Linked DNA regions of Homo sapiens: region 2 is linked to region 1. The links come from fine-mapping of genetic effects on gene expression. A gene starts in region 1. The other region holds a variant in brackets. All regions are shown on one strand. Distances are between the middles of the regions. Region 1 holds the start of TMEM9B (TMEM9 domain family member B). Region 2 has its middle 48 kb from the start of DENND2B.

The links. PIP is the estimated chance that this variant, and not a neighbour inherited with it, causes the effect.
Region 2: its variant is the best candidate, but not a certain one, in a credible set for the expression of TMEM9B in whole blood (INTERVAL, PIP 0.57).

What each region holds. Positions count from the first base shown.
Region 1 is chr11:8,961,875-8,967,251 of GRCh38, forward strand. It overlaps TMEM9B (TMEM9 domain family member B), which reads right to left and starts at 2,568. Exons shown (of 5, transcript NM_020644.3): 1 at 2,335-2,568; 2 at 218-309. The coding sequence starts at 2,439. TMEM9B-AS1 (TMEM9B antisense RNA 1) reads left to right here and starts at 2,801. Exons shown (of 5, transcript NR_073431.1): 1 at 2,801-3,274; 2 at 4,030-4,170; 3 at 4,667-4,782. RefSeq lists silencers at 2,032-2,221, 2,262-2,761.
Region 2 is chr11:8,856,135-8,861,511 of GRCh38, forward strand. It overlaps a transcript of DENND2B not described here. Among named protein-coding and RNA genes, the nearest start is that of DENND2B, 48 kb to the left of the region's middle. The variant T/C (reference allele first, on the strand shown) is at 2,113.

The sequences.
Region 1 (5,377 bases):
TACATGGGTCTTAGTGTTTTGGCTGTATACCTTTAGGCCTGCAGGCATCATGCACGTAGGGCCTCACTCTCACTTTTTCAAATGGAAGTAGAATTTCACATTTTTGCTTCAAATGAAATACTTAAAAAGAAAACTATGCATTTGATGAACATTCTGGGATAACACTGACAACCACAGAAACAAATGTGACAGGTAATTCAGTAATCCAGATACTTACCAATCTTTCTGAGATATGTTCTTATTATAAATATGCCCAGAATTTTCTTTATAGGGAGGGCAGATACATTTACATCTGACATCCTCGAAATTCTGTAACCAAAATGGAAACAGTATAGTGCGTTGACAGTTTATCATCAATATTTTTAAAAACTGTACCATATACATTTTGCCAAGCATCCTCTTTAGAATACCAAGTATTCTAAAATCATTCATTTAAAACTTTAACAGACACAGTTTTTAAAAGCCACAGTCCTTTATGGTAATGCCAATGAATCATTATATATTACATGTAGTTATTTTGAAATAATACCTAATACATGATCTAAGACTTATTAACCATATTTATGGGTCACATGACAATCAAATTATGTTAATGTTATTACCATCTATCTGCCACTAGAAAGACACATGGTAAGCAGATAGTTGTGCCTGTAAATAAGAATATTCATTACTAAAGGATGGGAAAGAAACTAAAAATTATTCACAAAAAAGGTCACAATTCTACCTATCATCCTTTCACCCTCTGGTAGAAGGCACTGACATTGATAAAACGGGTTGGGCCAGAGTCCCGTAGAAGGGATGAAATGTTAGAGGCACCCACCTACAACTAGAAAGGAAGTACACACAGGAAGTAGCCTGACTCTGAGATCAGTTTAGTATACTCTTCCCAGGAAACTTTGCTTCTAATTCCTGGTTGACAGACAGAACAACTACCAACAAAACAAGTTTCAAGAGGTGGAGGAACAGGTGACTAAGTATCTGGATAGAGAAAAGAAGAGATGCTTCCTCAGCAAAGGGGAATCTGTTTGAGAAGGAAGTGGCTTATCATTCCCCAGAGGACCTTGCCCACTCCTCCTATATACAGTGATATGTCTGGCAGAGCTATTGACAATTCACAAACGTATTCAGCAACCACTTAGTGAGCATTTGCTCTGTGTTAGATCTTGTGCTCAATAAGGTGGATTCAGATAAGCATAAGACATGGTTTCTGCCCATAACCAGGACACACCCTAGTAAAGGAGACTGAAAAATAAATACATGATCACAATACATAAAGTTATGAGGCAAGATATGCAGAGGGTGCCAGCAATGTTTTCAAAGTCAGGAGACGTGCTGCTGTCCCTGTTTCTGGTAGGAGGTAGAGATGGTTTCAAAAAGAATCTCTGAATCAAAAACATTTGCCTGCCTGTAACCTTTCCCCACTCCTACATTTAAAGATATTATAAATTAAAGCTCTTATTTTTAAAAACGCAATGTCATTCTGTTTTCCCATCATACTAATGTGAATCCCTTCTGTTCTCCCCCAATGATGAGCTAGCTCATCAAAGAGGAAGCACAGGTATGCATGGAGCTAGGGCAGGTCTGGAGAGCTGGGGCACCAGAGAACAGTATGAGGGAACTAGAAGGTCAAGAAATCGAACCAGGGAGGCCACAACCTCACCTCTCTTGCAGTTTGGTTCTTCCCTTACCCACTAAATTATCAGGAAGAGAGAAAGCAAGAAAGGCACCAAGGGACTCGTGGAGGGAGTTAGGTGAGAATATGAAGCAGGTGAGAGATGCTCCGTAGGCCCTATTGGGAGGGAAGTAGGCCAGGAGGGGCAAGTTCCCACCACAGGAAGGGAAGTGTTCAGGGGTGAGCTGAGCTGAGTCGGCCCTTGACAGGGAAGGCTCTGTCAGATGGGGGCTTCCTATCATTCTGGCTTGGGGCATGCGGGGCCTGTGAGGCTGGCGGAGGGCGCAGGTGGGCTGTCAAGAGCTTAGGGTGGAAAGTTAAAGGCTCTCGGAGGTGAAAAGGTTGTCAAGTGTAAGATGCGTGCAGCCGGGGCTGGGAAGGGAAATGTTAAGGCGGTGGGGGGCTGCTGTCCGGACTGTGGGCACTGTCGGGGCTGGGGACGACCGTGGGGCGCTGCCTGCCAGGCTGTCGGGGCTGAGGGCGAGAGTGCCGCCGGGCAGTCGGGAGGGGCGGGGCTGGTGGCGGCGGGGGTCTGCCGGAGCTGTGAGGCCAGGCGTATGGCTGTCAGGAATGGGCCAAGGAGCAGGTTGGCAGACCCAGTTTCCGCAAGGCCGGTGGTAGGGGAGGAGCTTCCGTCAGGAGCGAGGCTGGGCGGGACTCACCTTGGCGGCGTCTGACAGCTGCGCCAGCAGCAGCACGGAAAGCGCCAGGCACGACAGGCTGAGCAAGGAGCCAAGCCGAAGAAGGCCTCCCCACAGGGTCGCCATCGCTGGGGGCCCAGCGGTCCCACAGCCCGGAGCCCCCGCGACCGGCTCCCGGCTCGGGCTCAGGCTCAGGCTCAGGCTCAGGCACAGGCTTGGGACCCGGCTGGGGATCCTCCGCCCGCACTTCCGTCTGGACGCGAAGGCGTCACCGGGCGCGCCGGGTCAGATGCAAAAAGCATCCGCCCCGGAACCGGTTACCAGTGCGAAGGGCCGGGAGGCTGGGCAGTCCTGGTGCCCGCCTTGGCCTAGCCCCGGCCCCGGGACGGAAGGGGGCCTCTGGGGTGGCAGCCTGGGCCCAGTAGAGCTTTGCATCTCTTGGATATCTTTCCCGGGCGCAGAAGCTGCGGGGCTTAGGGAGTCGCCATTGCGCTGGAAAGTCCTCCCGCCCACGGAGACCCCAGCAAACTCCGAGTGTCACACAGTCGCCTCTGGCGACCCGTGCGGGCCGGAGCCGTTCGCGCACAGGCAGGGCGGGTGCTGAGCGTGGAAACGGGGCTGGAATTGGCCGAGCCATGCCTTTCCGGGATGCCCACCGCCAGTCAAAGGGTTGGGGGTGGTCTCTGCACCTTAAGTACTAACCTGCCGCCCACGCGCCTCCTGACCACAGCACCCCGTCGGCTTTCTAATTCTGTGAGCTGCCCTCGTGGGCGTGGCCTCCCTGTGGAGCTCCCCATGTGCCTCCCCTTGGTCCAGCCTGCAGCTAGGAAGTGGGTCACAGCGACGGGGCTGGGCTGGGCCAGGCCAGGCTCCGGGAGATGTGGAATTGGCGAAACAACTGCCCCAGTAGTATCCTCCGCCTAGGACTCCAAGAGGTGGCGAATTGGGGCACTACGCCCGGGTAAGGCAGTGCCTGTTCAGGGCTGCCGACCTGTCTCCCCAGGGCTGTCATTCTCAGCAAGTACTTTAGGAGTGCCTTAGATCGGCACATTCTCCCATTGAAATATTTTTGTTAGTGGAGACAAGGGAGGTAATGGCAAGGACACGGATCATCACAGCCCCTAGGGATTTGTTGAATGACCTTTGGCAAATCACTTCCCTTCTCTGGGCCTGTAGTTCTTGGCTGAATATGAGGGAATGGATTTCAAATTATGCTCCATGTAATACCCGTGTTTTTACCTCTGTAAACAGATTTTTTTGTTTTTTTTGAGACGGAGTCTCGTTCTGTCCCCCGGGCTGGAGTGCAGTGGCGCGATCTCGGCTCACTGCAACCTCCGCCTCCCGGGTTGACGCCATTCTCCTGCCTCAGCCTCCCTAGTAGGTGGGACTACAGGCGCCCGCCACCACGCCGCCCGGCTAATTTTTTTTTTCTTTTTCTTTTTCTTTTTTTTTTTTTGTATTTTTAGTACAGACAGGGTCTCACTGTGTTAGCCAGGATGGTCTCGATCTCCTGACCTTGTGATCCGCCCGCCTCGGCCTCCCAAATTGCTGGGATTATAGGCGTGAGCCACCGCGCCCGGCCCCAACAGATTTTTAAAGATGGTCTTTTCCCAATTTGTGGAAATGTTTTAACAGAATGCTCTCAATATTTTTCGCCCATGTGATTCTTAGATTCATGTGAATCTAACACAACGTATCTGATACTGTTCCCAACAGGAACCAGGGTGGCAGGGCTAGATGTCCTCTCACCAGACTGCCCAGTGAAGGTGCTGTCACTTTGATGAATTATCAAGGCTTTGTAGTGGGTCTTCTACTGGACAAAGGACAAACTGGAGACTCCCTGGATCAAATGTGTTGGTGAGGCACTGAATCTGATTGCTGAAAGGTGATTCAGCTGCAAGTTAGGCATCAGTTTAGGGTTTTCTAGGCTTGGCATCTAAAGGGAGTGCCTGCTGTAGCTGAAACCTCATAGGCCTTCTCTTCCTTCCGAATTGTTTTCAAGGCCTTGGGGGTACAGAGACTTAGAGAAAATACATAGTTGTGCCTCAGACTGATGGGCCTCATCTGTTTAATGGAGAAACACCAAGCACACTCAGTCTGGGCGGAATTTTAGAGCTCCATAGTATAACCACTATCTAGCTACATGTGGCAATTGAGCATTTGAAATGTGGCTAGACTGAATTGAAATGTGCTGTATAAAATATACACTTAATTTCAAAGACAATATTTTTAAAATGTAAAATATTTCAGTAATTTAAAAATATGGTTTAAATATTTTAGATATGTTGGGTTAAATAAAATATATTAGTAAAATATTTCACTTGTTTTTTGACCTCTTAAATGTGGCTGCTAGAAAATGTTATAGTGCTGTCAGGAAGTGCTGTTCTGGAATACAGAATGTGGCTGCCGTGAGTGGAGTGTGACTATGAGATAGTCGCCTGACTGGAGACAATGAAGCCTCAGGCCAAGGTAAGAGGGCTGACAAGGAAGAACTGGCACAACTAGAGCCGAATGTTTGGGGGAGGTATATGTCTGCCAAAAAATGAATATAATTTCAGGTGACTCAATAGAAGTGGAGGGATCAGTTTCTCTTGTTCTGCCCTGCTCTTATCTAGGTAACTCTTACTTTTCCTTTAGGTCAGGGTTCTTCTAAGCCAGAAAACCTTCACTGACTTAAGTGCACTCCTTTCTATGTTTGCATAGATCTCTTTCTTAACTTTACCCCATTATAGTAAAATTATGTTTTCACATTTGCCTTTATACCCAAACCTCCACCAAAATATTGTGAGCTCTCTGAGGGTAAGGACTTTGTCTTATTATTGTTATACCTGGAGACAGATTAAAACAATATGATGTTTGTGGGGACCAGGGAAAAGGGGAATGGGAGAGGCTCCTCTGGTTAGTCTAAAAGAAAAGTATCAGGCACCTACTTGAATCCTCATTTGATTTCTTTCTGACCATGAGAGGGGATGCTGAGATGCCCAAAGATGTGCAAATGGCGGGATCCGGCGCACCATAGTAGGCAGGGGAGTGAAGATTTCTCACCTCGGGTCTTCCTAGACCT
Region 2 (5,377 bases), 110 kb before region 1:
AGAATCAAATGTTAATGTTCCATTAATAACATTTGATGCAATATGATCAAAAGACTGAAGCTCTAGTACCCAGCACAGTATCTGGTGTTTAAGAAGTGCTCCTCAATAAATATCCATTGAATGTTAAATGATCCAGGATTTTTTTCTTGCATCCAAAACTTTCAGATCCAGTAGAAGATATTATTTAAAAGTCTGTGTTCTCACTTTTATGCTGACTTTCAAAGTGTTTTGTTAGAGATGGAAAAAGATTTCTGGGTATGGAAAAATTTTTAAAGTATCATACACTGCCAATTCACTGGCCTGGTACAGGCTGTATCAATCTGTTCTCATCAGCTCTGGTTGAAAACATATGTGGACTACCTGAATGGGCCTAGGCTTGAGCACAACTTATCCGTCCAAAGCATTTGTGGGCCCAGGAGACAGGTTTTACTTCCACTGGTCACACGTGTCCAAAAAAAAATGTGCAAGGTTGGTTGGAAGTCCCTGGATGCCTGACTCCCCAACCACTATATTGGGCAGCTCCCCTGATGGAAAGGCAGGCCCAGGCCCTCTCTGGGCAGCTGCTCCCATTCATTTCCGTCTGTTCCTTCAGTCTCTCCTCACTCTATCACTATTTTCTTTTTTTTTTTTTTCTTTCTTCAGACAGGTCTTGACTGTCACCCAGGCTAGAGTGCAGTGGTGCAATAATGGCTCCCTGCAGCCTTGAACTCCTGGTCTCAAGCAATCCTCCCACCTCAGCCTCCCGAGTAGCTAGGACTACAGATGTGTGCCACCATGCCCAGCTAATTTTTTACTTTTTGCAGAGACAGGGTCTCACCATGTCACCCAGGCTGGTCTAGAACTCCTGGGCTCAAGCAATTCTCCTGCCTCAGTCTGCCAAAGCACTGGGATTACAGGTATGAGCCACTGCACTTAGCCCCATCACTATTTTCACATCAGTATAATGTTATCTTGTATCCCTCCTGTCCTAACCTGGCCCAGGTTTCTTAGAAGAATTATCATCTGGATACTAAAATGTCATTTATAGCCGCATACAGAATTAAGGCAAAATACCAGGTCTCCTCCTTCTTATCCCCAAACTCTATTAGAAAGCTGAGTATACACATATTGCCTGATAATTTCATGTCATCTTCTCCAAAAACCACCACAAATCTCTAAAAACAGAAACAGAAATAACTAAAATGATACTAGGCCCTTAGCAATAATACCTGGATTGTTACAAGGGCCTCCTAACTCCTCTTAGCTTCTAGTTTCCTCCTCAATTCCAATCCATTTTCTATACTATCCATTCTGTCACCATCCCTGTAGAGAAAGACAGAACAATAGTCAAAGCATTTTCACATGCCTCCCACTCATTCCAAACTCAAAGTCTTCAAGATGACATTCAAGATCCCAGAGGATCTGATTCAGCCTGGTCTGTCTCCGATGGGCTCCTTTATAAACCTGCTGATTCCAATAGACCACCTATTTCCAGCCCATACAAGCCAACATCTTTTCTGCCTCTGGGCCTTTGCTCATGCTGCCCCTGGTTACTCCCCAACCCCCAGAGTCCTCCTGGATTCTGAAGGCAGCACTGTGTAGAAGAAAGGGAACTAAATTAGGAGTCAAAACACCTGGATGCCAGACGTGGTTCTGACATCAACTGGTTGTGTGCCTTTGGGCAGGTCCTACACCTCTCTGGGCTCAGTTTCCTGTCTATAAACAGAAAGATTGGACTAGTTCACCCTATAGCCCTTCCACCTTTAAAAAAAAGTATTCTTCGATTCCTATATGCTCGACCAAATCCAATCTCTCCTTCAAAGTCTGCAGGTCCTCCAAGAAATTTCTCTGAGCACTTCAGCCCACACTATTCTGTCCCCTCTGTGTGGAATCCAGAACAAATTACACAGTGCATTCATTCAACCAAGATTTCTGAGCATTTTCTTGGCCATGTTATGATAGCAAAGCCTTGGTAATAAACATAAAACCAGTTAGGACCCAGGCTGTAGTTATCACCTGTACCTCCCTTTCCTCTCCACTATTTTTACCCAAGTGAAGTCATGAACAGCAAATGAATGCAAAAGATACCATTTAGTCATTTATTTAACAAATATTTAAAGAAAACCTTCCATG[T/C]CCTATTCTAAAAAGTAAAGATATCAGTAAACAAATGGATCAAGTCCCTAACTTCATGGAGTTTATTTATTTGGGAAAGCAGACAGGAAAAACACAGAAATATGTAATATAATTTTAGGAAGAAAAAGAAAGGAGGGGATTAAAGAGTGACTCGGAGCAGTTTTACATAGGATGGGCAGAGAAGGCCTCCCTGAGGTGGCACACTCGAGCCCACACTCAAATGAACTGGGTGACAAACCAGCAATATTCAAGGAGAAGAGCATCCTAGGAGCAGGCAAAGGCCATGAGACAGAAGAGATGGGAGGAAGGCAGGAGCAGATGGGAGAGCTGGGGCTTAGACCACACAAGAACTTGGTAGTAAATGTGCATTGTACTTCTAAGTGTGATAGCATTCCATATGAGGGTAAAAAATATATATATTCTCATTGCTATGTGGAGAAGAGACTGCAAAGACAGGAGCAGAGGAGCCAGGACCAGCTGAGGATGGCTATTCTGAACCAGTCGAGGGCTTGGCTGGTCACCCAAACTAGGTCATTTCCTGGCTCTCCAGCTTATAAGCTGTGTGAGCTCAAGAAAGTCCATCTCTTGTCTCAGTTTCTACACCTTTAAGCAAGGATAATAAAAATACCTATATTATAAGGTTGTCTGGAAGGCTAGATTAGTGCACATAAAACCCTTACAACAGCCTCTGGCAGCCAGTAAACATTCCATAAATGCTAGTACTTCAAAGCCAGGGAATCACCTAAGAAAAGTGAAGACAGAGACAAGAAACAGGCTGAAGACTGAGCCCTTGGGCGCTCCAAAAGCTCCAAAGGCCTCCATTTGGCCCAAGATTTGCCATAAGCCTGCACGTCCTAAACCTTGTCTGGGGCTCCAAACCCCCTGTATGTATCAATAACTCAAAATTTAGAGCTTGATGATGTACTGCTTTATATCATTCTTTAGGTAACAATTATATGTTCTAAGTTCAGGTTATCACTTTCCCTCAGTTGTATTGTATATCTACTACCAGGCTTGGCATAGGGTTAGATAAACACTAACGTGTTTTTTTGTTTGTTTGTTTGTTTGTTTGTTTTTTTGAGACAGAGTCTCCCTCTCTCGCCCAGGCTGGAGTGCAGTGGCGCGATCTCGGCTCACTGCAAGCTCCGCCTCCCGGGTTCACGCCATTCTCCTGCCTCAGCCTCCCGAGTAGCTGGGACTACAGGCGCCCGCCATCGCGCCCGGCTAATTTTTTGTATTTTTTAGTAGAGACGGGGTTTCACCATGTTAGCCAGGATGGTCTCAATCTCCTGACCTCGTGATCCACCCGCCTCGGCCTCCCAAAGTGCTGGGATTACAGGCGTGAGCCACCGCGCCCGGCCACGTGTTTTGCAAATACTCATTCATGGATTATATCATGTATATTTCAAAGAAATCAATGTAAGGCACTATACTTCCTTTTAAAACAAAGAACCATCTTCTCTTCAAGGAATAATGTGAATTATAAGTTATATCCTCAGCACTGCCCCACTACCCCCACTACCCTATCAGTCCCATCTTGGCAGAGACAGGCATGCTGACCAAAGAAGTTACACCATCTGCCATGCCATTTTCCCACCTGACTTCCTGTCCACATGCTTTGTGAACAAAGTTTTCTGTCTCTTCTTTCCTGGAAATTTCTCAAGCTGTAAAAACCTCCCATACCTAGCAACATGTCACACCTGCCCCTGTCCCCAGAATTCCCCATGGCCCTTAAAAAAGCCTAAACAATGAAGCCAAAATATTCCCAGAAAAACAGGAGCATCAAAACTTAGGAAGAAAAGAGGGAAAGAAAATGGGCATAACCCAAATAAACACCTAGAGAATCATCCAGCAGGGTTCTTCCCGCCAAGGTACAGGAATCTCAGTGCCTTCAACTAGTTACTATGAATATTTATAAAATGACCTTAGGAAGTCCTAGCCAGAACAATCAAGCAAGAGAAAGAAATAAAGGGCATCCAAATTGGAAAACAGGAAGTCAAACTATCTCTGTTTGCTAATGATATGATTGTACACTTAGAAAACCCTAAAAGATGCCTAGATCCTCCAAAAGACTCCTAGATTTGATAAATTCAGTAAAGTCTCAGGTTACAAAATCAACGTACACAAATCAGTAGCACTGCTATATACCAACAACCACCAAGATGAGAATCAAATCAATAACTCAATCCTTTTTAATACCTTCAAAAACAAATAAAATACCTAGTAATATACTTAACTAAGAAGGTGAAAGAGCACTACAAGGAGAACTACAAAACGCTGCTGAAAGAAACCACAGGTGACACAAACAAATAGAAATACACCCCATGCTCATGAAATCAAAGAATCAATATCATGAAAATGAGCATACTACCCAAAGCAATCTACAGATTCAATGCAATTCCTATCCAAATACTAACATCATTTTCGAAAATATTAGAAAAAACAATTCTAAAATTCATATGGAACCAAAAAGGAGCCCAAATAGCCAAAGCAATCCTGAGCAAAAAGAAGAAATCTGTAGACATCACGTTACCTGACTTATACTGCAAGGCTATAGTAACAAAACAGCAATGGTACTGGTATAAATGTAGATACACAGACCAGTGAAACAGAATAGAGAACCCAGAAATAAGCCAAATACTTACAACCAACTAACCTTCAACAAAGCAAACAAAAACATAAACTGGGAAAAGATACCCTATTCAATAAATGGTGCTGGGAAAACTGGCTAGCCACACGCAGAAGAATGAAACTGGATCCCTATCACTCACCATATACAAAAATTAACTCGAGATGGATCAAAGATTTAGATCTAAGACATGAAACCATAAAAATTCTAAAAGAAAACTTAGGAAAAACTCTTCTGGACATTGGGTGAGACAAAGAATTTATGACTAAGACCCCAAAAGCGAATGTAACAACAAAAATAAATAAATAAATGGGAACTAATTAAACTAAAAGGCTTCTGCACAGCAAAAGAAATAACCATTAAACAGACAACCCGCAGAATGGGAGAAAATATTTGCAAATTATGCATCTGACAAACAACAAATACCTAGAATCTGCAAGGAACTCAAATAATTCAGCAAGAAAAAAACACTCCCATCAAAAACCGAGCAAATGATATGAATAAACATTTCTGAAAAGAAGATATACAAATAGCCACGAAATATATGAAAAAAATGCTCAACATAACAAATCATCAGGGAGATGCAAATTAAAACCACAATGAAATACTCTACCTTACTCCAGCCAGACTAGCCAT